2 separate regions of the Homo sapiens genome follow, and region 1 is linked to region 2. A link means that fine-mapping ties the variant in region 2 to the expression of a gene that starts in the linked region. Tissue or cell type: whole blood. Region 2 holds a variant in brackets; the other region holds the start of a gene. All regions are shown on one strand. Distances are from middle to middle.

What was found. PIP is the estimated chance that this variant, and not a neighbour inherited with it, causes the effect.
Region 1: WASHC1 starts here. The variant in region 2 is fine-mapped to the expression of WASHC1 in whole blood (GTEx, PIP 0.97).

The regions. Positions count from the first base shown.
Region 1 is chr9:24,446-32,626 of GRCh38, forward strand. WASHC1 (WASH complex subunit 1) reads right to left here and starts at 5,011. Exons shown (of 11, transcript NM_001378090.1): 1 at 4,867-5,011; 2 at 406-559. The coding sequence starts at 554. It overlaps MIR1302-9HG (MIR1302-9 host gene), which reads left to right and starts at 5,214. Exons shown (of 3, transcript NR_197460.1): 1 at 5,214-5,437; 2 at 5,897-6,000; 3 at 6,313-6,446. It overlaps MIR1302-9 (microRNA 1302-9), which reads left to right and starts at 5,699; the gene lies at 5,699-5,836.
Region 2 is chr9:47,753-55,933 of GRCh38, forward strand. No RefSeq gene overlaps it. Among named protein-coding and RNA genes, the nearest start is that of FAM138C, 16 kb to the left of the region's middle. The variant A/G (reference allele first, on the strand shown) is at 4,729.

The sequences.
Region 1 (8,181 bases), 23 kb before region 2:
AGAATGTGCGCTCCAGGTGGAGAGGTATGTTGCCTTATCCGTGGCTGGATATATAGAGATTCCCACACTGCCTTGCACACGAGCACTGCTGGGTAAATATTTGTTGGCTGCAGGAAAACGTGAAGGAATAGGCCCTCCAATGGGAGGAAAAGCATGAGTTGTGAGAGCAGAGCCACCACAGGAAACCAGGAGGCTAAGTGGGGTGGAAGGGAGTGAGCTCTCGGACTCCCAGGAGTAAAAGCTTCCAAGTTGGGCTCTCACTTCAGCCCCTCCCACACAGGGAAGCCAGATGGGTTCCCCAGGACCGGGATTCCCCAAGGGGGCTGCTCCCAGAGGGTGTGTTGCTGGGATTGCCCAGGACAGGGATGGCCCTCTCATCAGGTGGGGGTGAGTGGCAGCACCCACCTGCTGAAGATGTCTCCAGAGACCTTCTGCAGGTACTGCAGGGCATCCGCCATCTGCTGGACGGCCTCCTCTCGCCGCAGGTCTGGCTGGATGAAGGGCACGGCATAGGTCTGACCTGCCAGGGAGTGCTGCATCCTCACAGGAGTCATGGTGCCTGTGGGTCGGAGCCGGAGCGTCAGAGCCACCCACGACCAACGGCACGCCCCCACCACAGGGCAGCGTGGTGTTGAGACAACACAGCCCTCATCCCAACTATGCACATAGCTTCAGCCTGCACAGATAGGGGAGTAGGGGACAGAGCATTTGCTGAGAGGCCAGGAGCGCATAGATGGGACTCTGCTGATGCCTGCTGAGTGAATGAGGGAAAGGGCAGGGCCCGGGACTGGGGAATCTGTAGGGTCAATGGAGGAGTTCAGAGAAGGTGCAACATTTCTGACCCCCTACAAGGTGCTTGCTACCTGCCAGGCACCCTTTCCATACCTTGTCTCAGTTCAGCTCCCCACCTTGGATAAACAAGAAACCTTGGTTGCAGAGGAAAAAAGAGGCTGGAAACAAAGGGGTAGAAATGGGGTAGCAGGGGAGATTGCCTGATCAACTGCCAAATGGTACACAGTTCTGGAAAAGCACAAAAAATGTGCACACACGGGTTCTTCCCACTTTAACCCCTGAGGAATCTGAGGCCTGCTCCTGAAACAGACTGGGCAGTGGCTAGTGACTCTAGGTATAGGAGTATCCAGCCCTGCTCACCCAGGCTAGAGCTTAGGGGGACAAGAGGAAAGAGGTGCCTGTGGGGGTGGAGGACAGGAAGGAAAAACACTCCTGGAATTGCAAAGTGAGGGCAGAGTCTATTTATATTGGGTTTAATTAACTCCTCTCCCTGGTGCCACTAAAGCAGCAATCACACTGCAGACAGCACTGATTTGATTGGCAAGAGATGCACCAGGCAGAATATTAAGGGACCAGGCCCCTATAAATAGGCCTAATCACAGCCCCTCACTGGAAAATGGTAAGGAAGACATTAATCAGGCCTGGCACTGTGCCCTAGACCTGCTCCCCTAGGCACTACAGTGGGGCCCTTGGTTGCAACACAAGTAGGTATGGATGGATGAGTGTGGCATGAAGGGCCTAGGAGATTTCACTTGGGTTTAAAATGCTGTGACCTTGAGTAAGTTGCCGTCTCTGAATCTGATCCTTTCGATTTCCCATTCTCCAAACTGAGAACTAGCACTGCTGAGACGTGGTTATTTCCAATAATAATTTGTATATTTTACATAACGCACCACACCAACATCTTCACCCAGTTGGAGCCTACTCCTTTGCTCCCGCTGCTGGCTTCCCCAGCCCTCCCTTCTGCCCTCCTCAGGCCAGCACTTTTCAGTGAGTTCCTCCTTTGCATACAGGCTTTCCAGATCTGTACTTGCCTTGAATACTCATCAGAGCCCAGGAGTTACTCCTCACCTCCCACTTATTTTTCCTCCCATCAAATAACTAAAGCATGGCCAGCTGATGCCCAGCCAACTGAGAAACCCAACCCTCTGAGACCAGCACACCCCTTTCAAGCATGTTCCTCCCTCCCCTTCTTTGTATTTATACTGATGCAAGTTTGCTGGCTGTCCTAACTTATTTCTGTGCCTCAGTTCTCCCATATGTAAGATCACAAAGGGGGTAAAGATGCAAGATATTTCCTGTGCACATCTTCAGATGAATTTCTTGTTAGTGTGTGTGTGTTTGCTCACACATATGCGTGAAAGAAGAGTACATACACAGATCTCCTCAAAAAGGAGGCAGCAAGCCCGTTCAAGAATGGGACTGAATACACCTGATGAGTGGTTTACTTTCTGTCTGCAAACATCTACTGATCATCTGTTAGGTGCAGGCCATGATCACAACAAAGACGAATAAGACACTACACTAGCCAGGGAGAGTCTCAAAAACAACTAAACTCAAATTAAATTCATTCTACTCCAGTCATGGGTACAAAGCTAAGGAGTGACAAATCCCTCTTGGAGTTAGGGGAGTCAGGAAAAAGCTCTTAGCAGAATGTGTGCCTCTCGGCCGGGCGCAGCGGCTCACGCCTGTAATCCCAGCACTTTGGGAGGCGAAGGCAGGCAGATCACCTGAGGTCGGGAGTTCGAGACCAGTCTGACCAACATGGTGAAACTCCATCTCTACTAAAAATACAAAATTAGCCAGGCGTGGTGGTGCAGGCCTGTAATCCCCGCTACTCGGGAGGCTGAGGAAGGAGAATCACTTGAACCGGGAAGGTGGAGGTTGCAGTGTGCCAAGATCGCGCCATGGCACTCCAGCCTAGGCAACGAGGGTGAACCAGGTCCAGGAAGAAGGTGCAAAGACAGCATTCCAGGTAAAAGAAACAGCTTGAACAAAAAGTGTGTAGGGGAACCGCAAGCGGTCTTGAGTGCTGAGGGTACAATCATCCTTGGGGAAGTACTAGAAGAAAGAATGATAAACAGAGGCCAGTTTGTTAAAAACACTCAAAATTAAAGCTAGGAGTTTGGACTTGTGGCAGGAATGAAATCCTTAGACCTGTGCTGTCCAATATGGTAGCCACCAGGCACATGCAGCCACTGAGCACTTGAAATGTGGATAGTCTGAATTGAGATGTGCCATAAGTGTAAAATATGCACCAAATTTCAAAGGCTAGAAAAAAAGAATGTAAAATATCTTATTATTTTATATTGATTACATGCTAAAATAACCATATTTGGGATATACTGGATTTTAAAAATATATCACTAATTTCATCTGTTTCTTTTTACTTTTAGAAATCACATATGTGACTTAAATATTTCTTTTCTTTTTCTTTCCTCTCACTCAGCGTCCTGTGATTCCAAAGAAATGAGTCTCTGCTGTTTTTGGGCAGCAGATATCCTAGAATGGACTCTGACCTAAGCATCAAAATTAATCATCATAACGTTATCATTTTATGGCCCCTTCTTCCTATATCTGGTAGCTTTTAAATGATGACCATGTAGATAATCTTTATTGTCCCTCTTTCAGCAGACGGTATTTTCTTATGCTACAGTATGACTGCTAATAATACCTACACATGTTAGAACCATTCTGACTCCTCAAGAATCTCATTTAACTCTTATTATCAGTGAATTTATCATCATCCCCTATTTTACATAAGGAAATGGGGTTAGAAAGACCAAATAACATTTTTTCAACATCAAAACACTAGCTTGAGATCAAGCCCAGACTTGGATCTGTCGTCTGAATTCCAAGCTTTTTGTTATTTATTGATATGTTTTGTTGTTTTCATGCAATAATGCAAATATTAGCCCAAACATTTTGTTAGTAGTACCAACTGTAAGTCACCTTATCTTCATACTTTGTCTTTATGTAAACCTAAATTAGATCTGTTTTTGATACTGAGGGAAAAACAAGGGAATCTAACACTAACCAGCCCGTAGTGTGTGGTCAACACTTTCGTTACTTTAGTATACATCACCCCAATTGTTTGTCTTCACCACACACTTTGGAGTTAGGTAGTAGTATCTATTTTTACAAATAAGAAAACCCAGGCACAAAGGGGTTGATTAGCAATTATCTTTTGAAAAGCCTGTAGTTGCTCATCTGAAGAAGTGACGGACCACCTCTTATTTAGTGGACAGACAGTAACTAGTTGAGAAGACAGGGGATTTTGTTGGCGGAAAAAAAATTTTATCAAAAGTCGTCTTCTATCAGGGAGTTTTATGAGAAACCCTAGCTCCTCAGTTCCACAGTGGGTAACTGTAATTCATTCTAGGTCTGCGATATTTCCTGCCTATCCATTTTGTTAACTCTTCAATGCATTCCACAAATACCTAAGTATTCTTTAATAATGGTGGGTTTTTTTTTTTTTTTGCATCTATGAAGTTTTTTCAAATTCTTTTTAAGTGACAAAACTTGTACATGTGTATCGCTCAATATTTCTAGTCGACAGCACTGCTTTCGAGAATGTAAACCGTGCACTCCCAGGAAAATGCAGACACAGCACGCCTCTTTGGGACCGCGGTTTATACTTTCGAAGTGCTCGGAGCCCTTCCTCCAGACCGTTCTCCCACACCCCGCTCCAGGGTCTCTCCCGGAGTTACAAGCCTCGCTGTAGGCCCCGGGAACCCAAAGCGGTGTCAGAGAAGTGGGGTCCCCTACGAGGGACCAGGAGCTCCGGGCGGGCAGCAGCTGCGGAAGAGCCGCGCGAGGCTTCCCAGAACCCGGCAGGGGCGGGAAGACGCAGGAGTGGGGAGGCGGAACCGGGACCCCGCAGAGCCCGGGTCCCTGCGCCCCACAAGCCTTGGCTTCCCTGCTAGGGCCGGGCAAGGCCGGGTGCAGGGCGCGGCTCCAGGGAGGAAGCTCCGGGGCGAGCCCAAGACGCCTCCCCGAGCGCGGCTCCAGGACCCCGTCGACCCGGAGCGCTGTCCTGTCGGGCCGAGTCGCGGGCCTGGGCACGGAACTCACGCTCACTCCGAGCTCCCGACGTGCACACGGCTCCCATCCGTTGTCTTCCGAGCGTCAGGCCGCCCCTACCCGTGCTTTCTGCTCTGCAGACCCTCTTCCTAGACCTCCGTCCTTTGTCCCATCGCTGCCTTCCCCTCAAGCTCAGGGCCAAGCTGTCCGCCAACCTCGGCTCCTCCGGGCAGCCCTCGCCCGGGGTGCGCCCCGGGGCAGGACCCCCAGCCCACGCCCAGGGCCCGCCCCTGCCCTCCAGCCCTACGCCTTGACCCGCTTTCCTGCGTCTCTCAGCCTACCTGACCTTGTCTTTACCTCTGTGGGCAGCTCCCTTGTGATCTGCTTAGTTCCCACCCCCCTTTAAGAATTCAATAGAGAAGCCAGACGCAAAACTACAGATATCGTATGAGTCCAGTTTTGTGAAGTGCCTAGAATAGTCAAAATTCACAGAGACAGAAGCAGTGGTCGCCAGGAATGGGGAAGCAAGGCGGAGTTGGGCAGCTCGTGTTCAATGGGTAGAGTTTCAGGCTGGGGTGATGGAAGGGTGCTGGAAATGAGTGGTAGTGATGGCGGCACAACGGTGTGAATCTACTTAATCCCACTGAACTGTATGCTGAAAAATGGTTTAGACGGTGAATTTTAGGTTATGTATGTTTTACCACAATTTTTAAAAAGCTAGTGAAAAGCTGGTAAAAAGAAAGAAAAGAGGCTTTTTTAAAAAGTTAAATATATAAAAAGAGCATCATCAGTCCAAAGTCCAGCAGTTGTCCCTCCTGGAATCCGTTGGCTTGCCTCCGGCATTTTTGGCCCTTGCCTTTTAGGGTTGCCAGATTAAAAGACAGGATGCCCAGCTAGTTTGAATTTTAGATAAACAACGAATAATTTCGTAGCATAAATATGTCCCAAGCTTAGTTTGGGACATACTTATGCTAAAAAACATTATTGGTTGTTTATCTGAGATTCAGAATTAAGCATTTTATATTTTATTTGCTGCCTCTGGCCACCCTACTCTCTTCCTAACACTCTCTCCCTCTCCCAGTTTTGTCCGCCTTCCCTGCCTCCTCTTCTGGGGGAGTTAGATCGAGTTGTAACAAGAACATGCCACTGTCTCGCTGGCTGCAGCGTGTGGTCCCCTTACCAGAGGTAAAGAAGAGATGGATCTCCACTCATGTTGTAGACAGAATGTTTATGTCCTCTCCAAATGCTTATGTTGAAACCCTAACCCCTAATGTGATGGTATGTGGAGATGGGCCTTTGGTAGGTAATTACGGTTAGATGAGGTCATGGGGTGGGGCCCTCATTATAGATCTGGTAAGAAAAGAGAGCATTGTCTCTGTGTCTCCCTCTCTCTCTCTCTCTCTCTCTCTCTCTCATTTCTCTCTATCTCATTTCTCTCTCTCTCTCTATCTCATTTTTCTCTCTCTCTCTTTCTCTCCTCTGTCTTTTCCCACCAAGTGAGGATGCGAAGAGAAGGTGGCTGTCTGCAAACCAGGAAGAGAGCCCTCACCAGGAACCTGTCCAGCTGCCACCTTGAACTTGGACTTCCAAGCCTCCAGAACTGTGAGGGATAAATGTATGATTTTAAAGTCGCCCAGTGTGTGGTATTTTGTTTTGACTAATACAACCTGAAAACATTTTCCCCTCACTCCACCTGAGCAATATCTGAGTGGCTTAAGGTACTCAGGACACAACAAAGGAGAAATGTCCCATGCACAACGTGCACCCATGCCTGGGTAAAGCAGCCTGGCACAGAGGGAAGCACACAGGCTCAGGGATCTGCTATTCATTCTTTGTGTGACCCTGGGCAAGCCATGAATGGAGCTTCAGTCACCCCATTTGTAATGGGATTTAATTGTGCTTGCCCTGCCTCCTTTTGAGGGCTGTAGAGAAAAGATGTCAAAGTATTTTGTAATCTGGCTGGGCGTGGTGGCTCATGCCTGTAATCCTAGCACTTTGGTAGGCTGACGCGAGAGGACTGCTTGAGCCCAAGAGTTTGAGATCAGCCTGGGCAATATTGTGAGATTCCATCTCTACAAAAATAAAATAAAATAGCCAGTCATGGTGTCACACACCTGTAGTCCCAGCTACATGGGAGGCTGAGGCGGGAGGATCACTTGAGCTTGGGAGATCGAGGCTGCAGTGAGCTATGATTGTACCACTGCACTCCAGGCTGGGCGACAGAGAGAGACCCTGTCTCAGAAAAAAAAAAAAAAGTACTTTGTAATCTGTAAGGTTTATTTCAACACACACAAAAAAAGTGTATATGCTCCACGATGCCTGTGAATATACACACACACCACATCATATACCAAGCCTGGCTGTGTCTTCTCACAAATGCACTGCTAGGCACCACCCCCAGTTCTAGAATCACACCAGCCAGTTCACCCTCCAGATGGTTCACCCTCAACTTCATAAAAGTTCCCTACCTAATCTACTGACAGGCTCATCCCCGACCTAATTTTAAAGATTTCCTAGGAGCTGCAATGGGAATCCTGGACCTCAGCCTGGACAAAGAACAGCTGCAGGTCATTCTCATGTGTGGACACAGAAGCTCTGCCTGCCTTTGCTGGCCAGCTGGGCTGAGCGGGCCTGGGAATTAAGGCTGCAGGGTTGGTCCCAGGCAGTCTTGCTGAAGCTTGCCACATCCCCCAGCCTCCTGGATTTGCCAGGATCCAAGAGCATGGACTTTAGGAATTCCTGGTGGAGGAGTGAAGAAAATGTGACAGGGTGTCCTAAGCCCCGATCTACAGGAAGAAAACTGGAAATAAGACTGAGGACTTAGTTTAAGATGTTCCTACTCAGCCTCTAGCTTTTGTGCTACAGTTCTGGGAACAGACTCCTCTCTCCTGAAAACCACTTCCCTCCGCAGCATTAAATTTCACCAAGATGTCTTGCTTGTGGGAAAGACTTCCAAGGATGCCTGGAGAGAGGAGGATGGAAATGTCCTGCTCTCTAAACAGATAGACAGATGCAGCCAGACAGAAAATAGTTTATCTTGCTGAGGTTTCTAATGTATTTGAAAGAGGCCTGGGTCTAGAAGTCTACCCAGAGGGCTCTGTGTTGTGCACGCAAAGATAAGAACCTTCCCTGTGGGAGTTCCAGAGCCAATTTTCCTAAACACCCATCGGTGACTGTGTTCAGAGTGAGTTCACACCATCCTGACCTGCCCTGAGTTAGACCTTACATGGTCTTCCTCCTCTAGGAAGCCTCTGCAGCCCAGGAACCTCCCCTTATCGGAAATGAACAGCATTTGAAGCTTCACCCGACAGACCAGACAGCTTAGCCCTCGTGTTGTGCCATGTGGGTTGTTCTCTGAGAGGCAGG
Region 2 (8,181 bases):
AGTTAAGTGGCCTAAAAGCAATGTTTCCCAGGAGCTCTGATGTCTCAGGAATTGCACTGGTTGGGACAGGGGAGATTCTCCCCAGCTTCAGTCAGCAGTAATAATAATAACAGGAGGCCGGGTGCGGTGGCTCACGCCTGTAATCCCAGCACTTTGGGAAGCCAAGGGGGGTGGATCACAAGGTCAGGAGATCGAGACAATCCTGGCCAACATGGTGAAACCCTGTCTCTACTAAAAATACAAAAATTAGCTGGGCATGGTGGCGTGTGCCTGTACTCCCAGCTACTTGGGAGGCTGAGGCAGGAGAATCACCTGAACCTGGGAGGTGGAGGTTGCATGAGCCAAGATCGCACCACTGCACTCCAGCCTGGCAACAGAGTGAGGCTCCGTCTCAAATAATAATAATAGGAAACATTTACAGAGTACCCACTGCCCCAGGTGCCATCATAAATGCTTCACATACATTCACTCATGCAGTAGTCACGATATTCCTATGAGATGGGTTTCAACTTCTATGCCCATCATCAGATGAGAAACTGAAGTGCTGAATGTCTAAGTGACTACTCAAGGTCACACAGCTAGTAAATGACAAGGCAAGGATTCGAGCCTTTGTAGTCTGGCTCTAGGGTGTGTCTGCTTAACTACACTATTCCCATTGTTTTACCTCCCTCCCTCCCACCAACCCATCCATTCACCCACCCATTCATCCAAACATCCACCCATACATCCATCCATCTGCCCACCCACCTATGCATCCATCTCGAGTTTCATGTAAGAGTTTATTTAATAAAGGAATTCTGAAGAATGATAAAAAATAAAAACTTGAAAACTACTCAAGATTGCTATTTAAACTGCAAAAGTCCTCAGGGGTGGGGTTCTATGACTCACATTGCACTTAGAATAAAGAGAAATTCTTTTTATACAATATAAGTTCCTGCAGAATGCAGACACTTTCTACTTCTCCAGCCTCTTTTCGACTCCTCTCCTACTGGCTTCTGTATTTAAGCCACATTAGACCTTTCTTCAGTTTTTATATCGACTTTGTTGCATCACACCTCAGAGATTCTGTACATGTTCTTCCTCCTGCCTAGAAAGGGTCGTCCCTCCACTTTCGCCAACTAATCCCTGCTCAACTTTTCATCTCAGCAGGAGGCCCATTCTGTTTGGCAATCCTCTGGCCTCCAGCCCATTTATTATATACTCACATGTCAACATGTACTTCGTACAGCATGTAACACAATTGCACTTTTATATTTTAACAAATTACATTTCCCATATTGAACTGTAAGTCTCCTGAAAGCAGGAATTTTGTTCTTGCTCATCATCAACTTTTTCAACATCCAGTGCACCATTTAGAACTTAGATGTAGTCAATACAGGTTTGTGGAATGAAAGAGGAAAAGAAAGAATTAATATTCCTTTAAATTAGGATGGCAAAGATCGTATATAGAAAATTGGCTACGTTGTGGTCCATTCATGTTTGCTCCCAATTAAGGAGCACAGCTATGAAAAGGAAGGCTTCAAATTAATAACCAATAGATTTTTTAAAAAAGAAAACTGGCCAGGTACTGTGGCTTATGTCTGTAATATCAGCATGTTGGGAGGCCAAGGCAGGATTACTTGAGCCCAGAAATTCCAGACCAGCCTGAGAATTTGGCAAAACTCTGTCTCTACAAAAAATACAAAAATTAGCCAAGTTTGGTGGCATGTGCCTGTAGTACCAGCTACTTGGGAGGCTGAGGTGGAAGAATAGCTTGAGTCTGGGAGGTCAAGGCTGCAATGAGCTGTGATCGCACCACTGCACTCAAGCCTGGGTGGTAGAGTAAGACCCTGTCTCAAAAAAAAAAAAAAAAAAGAAAAATCACTAAGCAAAATAAGACATGTGAAGGATCATGTCAAAGGTAAGAAAAATTAGGGGAACATTAAAAGCTTTCTTCCCAAGCCACTAAATCAACTTGACTAACAAAATTACCACTTGATTTAGCATTAGAAAATTACATTACATATCAAACATAAACCCATTAATCAAATACTAAAGAAATTTCTGAGTTAAATGGTATAATGTTAGCTTATGCCAGAGCTGACCTTGAAAGATTGTTCAAATATGGCTCAGTGTGACTGAAAGTTCTGTGTGAATATGTTTTTGGAAAGATCCAACAGCAACACCTTAGTGTATGTTTTTGAAATAAAATGTATCTGAGTAGCAGCAAAGTTATCCATTTCTTCTAGGTCCTCCAATTTGTTGGCATAAAATTGTTCATAATAATCCCTTATGAGCATTTTTATTTCTGAGGTATCTATTGCAATGTCTCCACTTTCATTTCTGATTTTATTTGAGTCTGCTTTTTTTAGTGAATCTAGCTAGGAGTTTGTAGATTTTATTTTTTCAAAGAACCAACTTTTGATTTTATTTATATTTTCTATAGTTTTACTATACTACATTTTGTTTGCTTTTGTTCTGATCTTCATTATTTCCTTCCTTTTGCTCACTTTGGGTTTAGTTTGTTCTTTCTTTAGCTCCCTGGGGCATAGTGTTAGTCTACTTATTTAGATCTTTTTCCTTTTTTAATCTAGGCATTTATTGCTATAAACTTCTCTCTTAGAACTGACTTTGCTGCATACTGTAGGTTTTGATACATTGTGTTTCCATTGTCATTAATCTCAAAATATTTTTTAATTTCCCTCTTGATTTCTTCTTTGACCCGTTAGTTCATCATAAGCATGTTGTTTAGTTTCCACATATTTGTAAATTTTCCAAGATTCCTCCCGTTATTGATTTTTAGCTTCACACCATTGTGGTTGGAAACAATACTAGAAGTGATTTCAACCTTTTTGAATTTGTTAAGGTTTATTTTGTGGCCTAACATATGGTCTATCCTGGAGAATGTTCTATGTATGCTAGAGAAGAATGTATATTCTGCTGTTGTTGGATGAATGTAGGTCTGGTAGGTCCATATGGTCTGAAGTATAGTTCAAATTTAGTGTTGTCTTGTTAATTTTTTGTCTGGTTGATCTCTCCATTGTTGCAAGTGGAGTACTGAAGTCCCCTATTAGTGTTATATTGCTGTATATTTCTTCCTTCATGTCCACTAATATTTGCTTTACATATTTAAGTGCTTCAATTTTGGATGCATATATGTTTACAATTGTTATGTCCTCTTGATAAGATGACCTCTTTATCATTAAATCATGACCTTCTTTGTCTCTTGGAACAGCTTTTTACTGGAAGTCTGTTTTATCTGCTATAAGTATAGGCATCCCTGCTCTCTTTTGGTAACTGTCTGTTTTCATGGAATATCTCCTTCTATCCCTTTACTTTCAGTATATGCCTATTCTTAAAGTTTAAAAATGGGTCTCTTGTAGGCAGCATCTAGTTGGATCTTGTTGTTGATCCACTCAGCCATTCTATATCTTTTGATTGGACAGTTTAACCCATGTACCAGCAAGGTTATTATTGATAGTAAAAGACTTACTCCTGCCATTTTGCTAATTGTTTTCTGGTTACTTTGTAGATAATTTGTTCTCTTCTTCCTCTATTGTTGTCTACCTTTGTGGTTTGGTGGTTTAGTTTTCTGCTTTGTGGTTACAATATTGTTTTTTAAATATTCAACATGAATACACTTTCTTGTTTGGATAACGTGTAAAACGTCTACAAGGAGGGATAGATAATAAGTTTTCCCTTCAGAATGCACTGCTTTGCCTGGGATGAGGAATAATTTATAATGGTAACTGTTGCTGGTTAAAATTTGGCTCCTACCCACATTCATGCAAACTCAGCATTCTAGATTAAAAGAGATTTAAGAGACTTGCCAAGCAAATGCATGGCATCCTTAGATGTATCCTGATTTGAATAAAACAGCTATAAATAATAATATTTTGGGGATTATTGAAAAATTTGACTATAGATTAGTTTTCAGGTGATATTGGAGAATTAATGTTATTATTGTTAGGTATGTTAGCACGGTCATGCAGCAACGTGTCTTTCTTTTTAAGAGATGCATACAAAAATATTTGGGTGTGAAATGTTCTCGTGCTATAATTTGCTTTAAAATTCTTCAGAAAAAAAAAGATAAGCAAAATAGAAAAACAAGATAATGGGTACATGTTATCTATTTCTTATTCTCCCTATTTTTTTGTGTGTTCAATTTTTAAAAGAAATTTACTCCATACATATATCCCACCCCCTCCACTAAGGACCCCCAAACTATAAATTGCTGTGAATATAAGAAAAAGTGAAACAATTCTATGATTTTGAGAGAAAGTCAACACTGTAGGAAAAAGAGAGCCCAGGATTTGGGCTAAAAATCATTAATCTGACCCTGATCAACCCTGTGGCCTTCAGCAGTAACTGAGCCTGTCAGGCCTTTGATTTGTTGATGTGTAAAATGAGGGTCATTGTCATTTAGACAACGACCTTCAGGGTATGTTTTAATGTTAAAATTCAGAGTCCTTCCATATCAGATAAGCATCAACTATTCAATAGTTTATGCTGAAGAGTACAGGGGACCAAGAGACCACCCAAATGGGTTCATGAGCCCATCATGCCACTTCTTTGTTGGATCACTTTGGGCACCTCACTAAATTTTTCTGAGCTAGGTCCTCTGCACCTTGCTTGTCTATCATCAAAGGGTCACTGTGAGACTATAATAATATAAGAGGAAAGGAATCGTGATTATTAAGGCATATACTGAACCACATACCTCCATTGGCAACATTAAACTTCACTCCA[A/G]ACTCTCCCCCTGGTCCTCCAGGGCAGTGGCTGGCTGTTAGAATGATTCCACCAGCTGCCTTGATCTTCCTGATAATGCAGGAGACCGCAGGTGTCGACAAGACGCCATTCTGTCCAATAATCAGTCGTCCAATCTAAACCATCCAAAAAAAAAAAAAAATCAATCCAGTTGCTTGGGATTAAAGGCATTTCAACAGGAAAGTGCCCCAGGCTCTGTTAACATACAGCCAATCACTTGATAAAAGAAACAGAGTAGGCTTTAGATTAGGGGAGGCAGGGTAGGGGGAGCACTGACATTGTCTCTCCTATCTAATGTCTCTAAGACCATTTGGTGCACCTGCATCTAGCAGTCAATTATTAACCTGTAAATAGGATATGCCTCACTGATCTTCAGTCGTTTGAAACATCTGCTTCTGATAATCGAGGAGTTAGCTTGAATCACACAAGAAGTTCTTAGTTTGCTACTGACTCAGAAACTATGCATGTGAACATGCTAGAGATTACAAGAAAAAAGAAATGGAGTGCTTCTCTGCTTCTTCTGCTTCCTGTAACTTAGAACAAGCTCAGAGAGCAAGGGGACTGATTTACTACAACCTCATCATCTGTAGGCATATTTTAACTGTAATCTTCAGGAATGACTTTTCTCCTGAAAGTAGGAATTCTCTTTCTGCTGTTAAGTGACAGCATGTGCTGGAGACATTGGAGAAATTACCCAGTCATGCTAAGCAGAGATCTGGAGGTCATCCATGGATGCAGCCAGATTCTTTCTAGAGCTACAAAACTGACTTTCTAAAAAGTCAGCAACACAGCGCTGAAGAACATTTATTGCTACATCTTGTTTTAAAATTGGATTCAATATCATCCAATCTAGTAGTTCTCAATATTTCTACAAAATAGAATCACTTATGAAGCTTTTCAAAATCCTAGTACTCAAACTGCATTCTAGACTGATGATATTGCAATCTCTGGGGTTGAGAGCCCAGCATTAGTAGTTTTAAAGCTCCACAGATGATTCCAATGTTCAGCCAAGCTCAGTAATAAAGCCCCCTTGTTACTCAAAGGGCTGGCAGCATGGGCATCACCTGCAAGCTTGATAGAAATGCAGAACCTCAGCTGGGCATGGTGGCTCCACCTGAAATCCCAGCACTTTGGGAGGCTGAGGTGGGCAGATCACTTGAGCTCCAGAGTTCGAGACCAGCCTGGTCAATGTGGTGAAACCCTATTTCTACTAAAAATACAAAAATTAGCTGAGCATGGTGGTGCACGCCTGTAGTCCCAGCTACTCCGGAGGCTGAGGTGGGAGAATTGCTTGAACCTGGGAGGCAGAGGTTGCAGTGAGCTAAGATGGCACCACGGCACTCCAGCCTGGGCTACAGAGTGAGACTCTGTCTGAAGGAAGGAAGGAAGGAAGGAAAGGAAGGAAGGAAGGAAGGAAGGAAAGGAAGGAAGGAAGGAAAGAAAGGAAGGAAGGAAAGAAAGAAAGAAAGAAAGGAAGGAAAGAAAGAAAGAGAGAAAGAAAGAAAGAGAAAGAAAGAAAAAAGAAAAAGAAAGAAAGAGAAAGAAAAAAGAGAAAGAAAGAAATAGAAAGAAAAAGAAAGAAAGAGAAAGAAAGAAATGCAGAACCTCAAGCCCCACCCAAGGCCTACTGAATAAGAACCTGTATTTTAATAAGATCCTCTCCTCTCTTCCCAGATAATTCATTTGATAAGTACTGATATAACCAACAAGCCAAAACAAACCTTAACATACAGTTCAACAACAAAGTTGCCCTGGCACCATCATTGCTAGAGGTCAGTCACTGACCAAATATAACAATCAGCGAGATCAGGGGAAAAAAAATTACAGAAGAGATCAAAACACACACACACACACACACACAGAGCTCAAAAGCAAAGTGGCCTTGGGATGATTTAGTATGGAAATCCACAAGATCCCCAGGCTACATATTTTCAAGTAGAGGAGACAGATTATAAACAAATAAGCAATAATAATAATAGTTACTAGTGAGGTACATATTAGGAAGGAATTAGACTGCTGTAATAGAGAATAAAGGATGTCAATTTTAATAATGAGATAATAATAATAGCTAAGGGAGCTTAGATTTTATTCTAAGTACAACCAGAATCCATTGAAAGGTTTTAAACAGTGGAAGTGACCTGATGGCATTTTTAAACATCATGGGCTGAGCAGCCCAAATGTTCCTATTAAAAAGTAAGTCACATCAAGTCACTAAAACATTCCAATAGCTTTCCTTGTCCCCCACCAACCCAAAACAAAGCCAAAGTCTTCATTGTAGTCTACAAGGCCCTACATAATCTGACCTCCATCATGTACCATTCTCCATCACCCTCCCCTCCCGCCCTCCTCCTTCTGTTCCAGCCACAACGGAACAGAACAGCTATTCCTCAAACATACCAAACACGATCCTGCCTCAGGGCCCTTGCATTTTCTTTTTCCTCTGCTTAGAATACTTGCCCAGATATTAACATACCTGCCCTCTACTGTCTTTTGGGTTTCTGTTTCAATGTAAGCTAATCAGAGATAGCACCCTTGACAGCCCTATATAATACTATAGCCAGAAGTCCCTAACTTTTCTATTGTTTCCTATTTCCTTCACCGTGCTATAATTTTCTGGATCACATATGTTGCCTTTAACATTTTCCATATTATTTATTTTCCCACTGTATGTAAAGCCCAAGGACTTTTCACTGCTATATCCCAAGAACCTAAAATAAATCTGGCATGTGGTAAGCGTACAATAAATATTTGTTGAATTAATGAATGGAGAATAATGAATGCATGATGAATGGCTTCTCTGGGAGAAATACCTTGAAGGGGGGCAAGAGCAGAAAGAGGAATATCAGACGGGAGACTCTTCAAGTCAAGTGTTGATAGAGTCTTGGACTAGGCTAGAGCCAACAGAAATGAAAATTAGTCATTTGGTTTGAGATACATTTTTGGAAGGAGGATCAACAGAATATGCAGGTGGGCTGGAATATGGAAGAGAGGGGCTGTGGTAAATAGCCTCCAAAATGGCCCCAATGGTCCTTGCCTTTTGGCATTTGTGCCTTTTTGTGGTCCCCTCCCACACTGAACGATGCAGATCTGGGTAATCAGTATATATTGCAGAAGTGATTGTGTGTGACTTCCATGGTGAGGCCATAAATGGCATGGACACTTCTGCCCTGCTCTCTTGGACAGCTTATTTTGGGATAGGCCAGCCGCCATGTCATGAAGACACTCAAGAAGCCCTGTGAAGAGGAAGCAAGGCCTGCCAACAACAGCCAGCACCAACTTTCCAGCCAAGGGATTGAGCCATCTCACAGTGGATCCTCCAGCCCCCACCAAGCCTTCATATGACCAAACCAACACCAACATGTAACTGTGACCTCATGTGAGTCCCCAAGCCAGAATACCCATCTCCTGTCTCAGAAATGATGAGAAATAATAAAT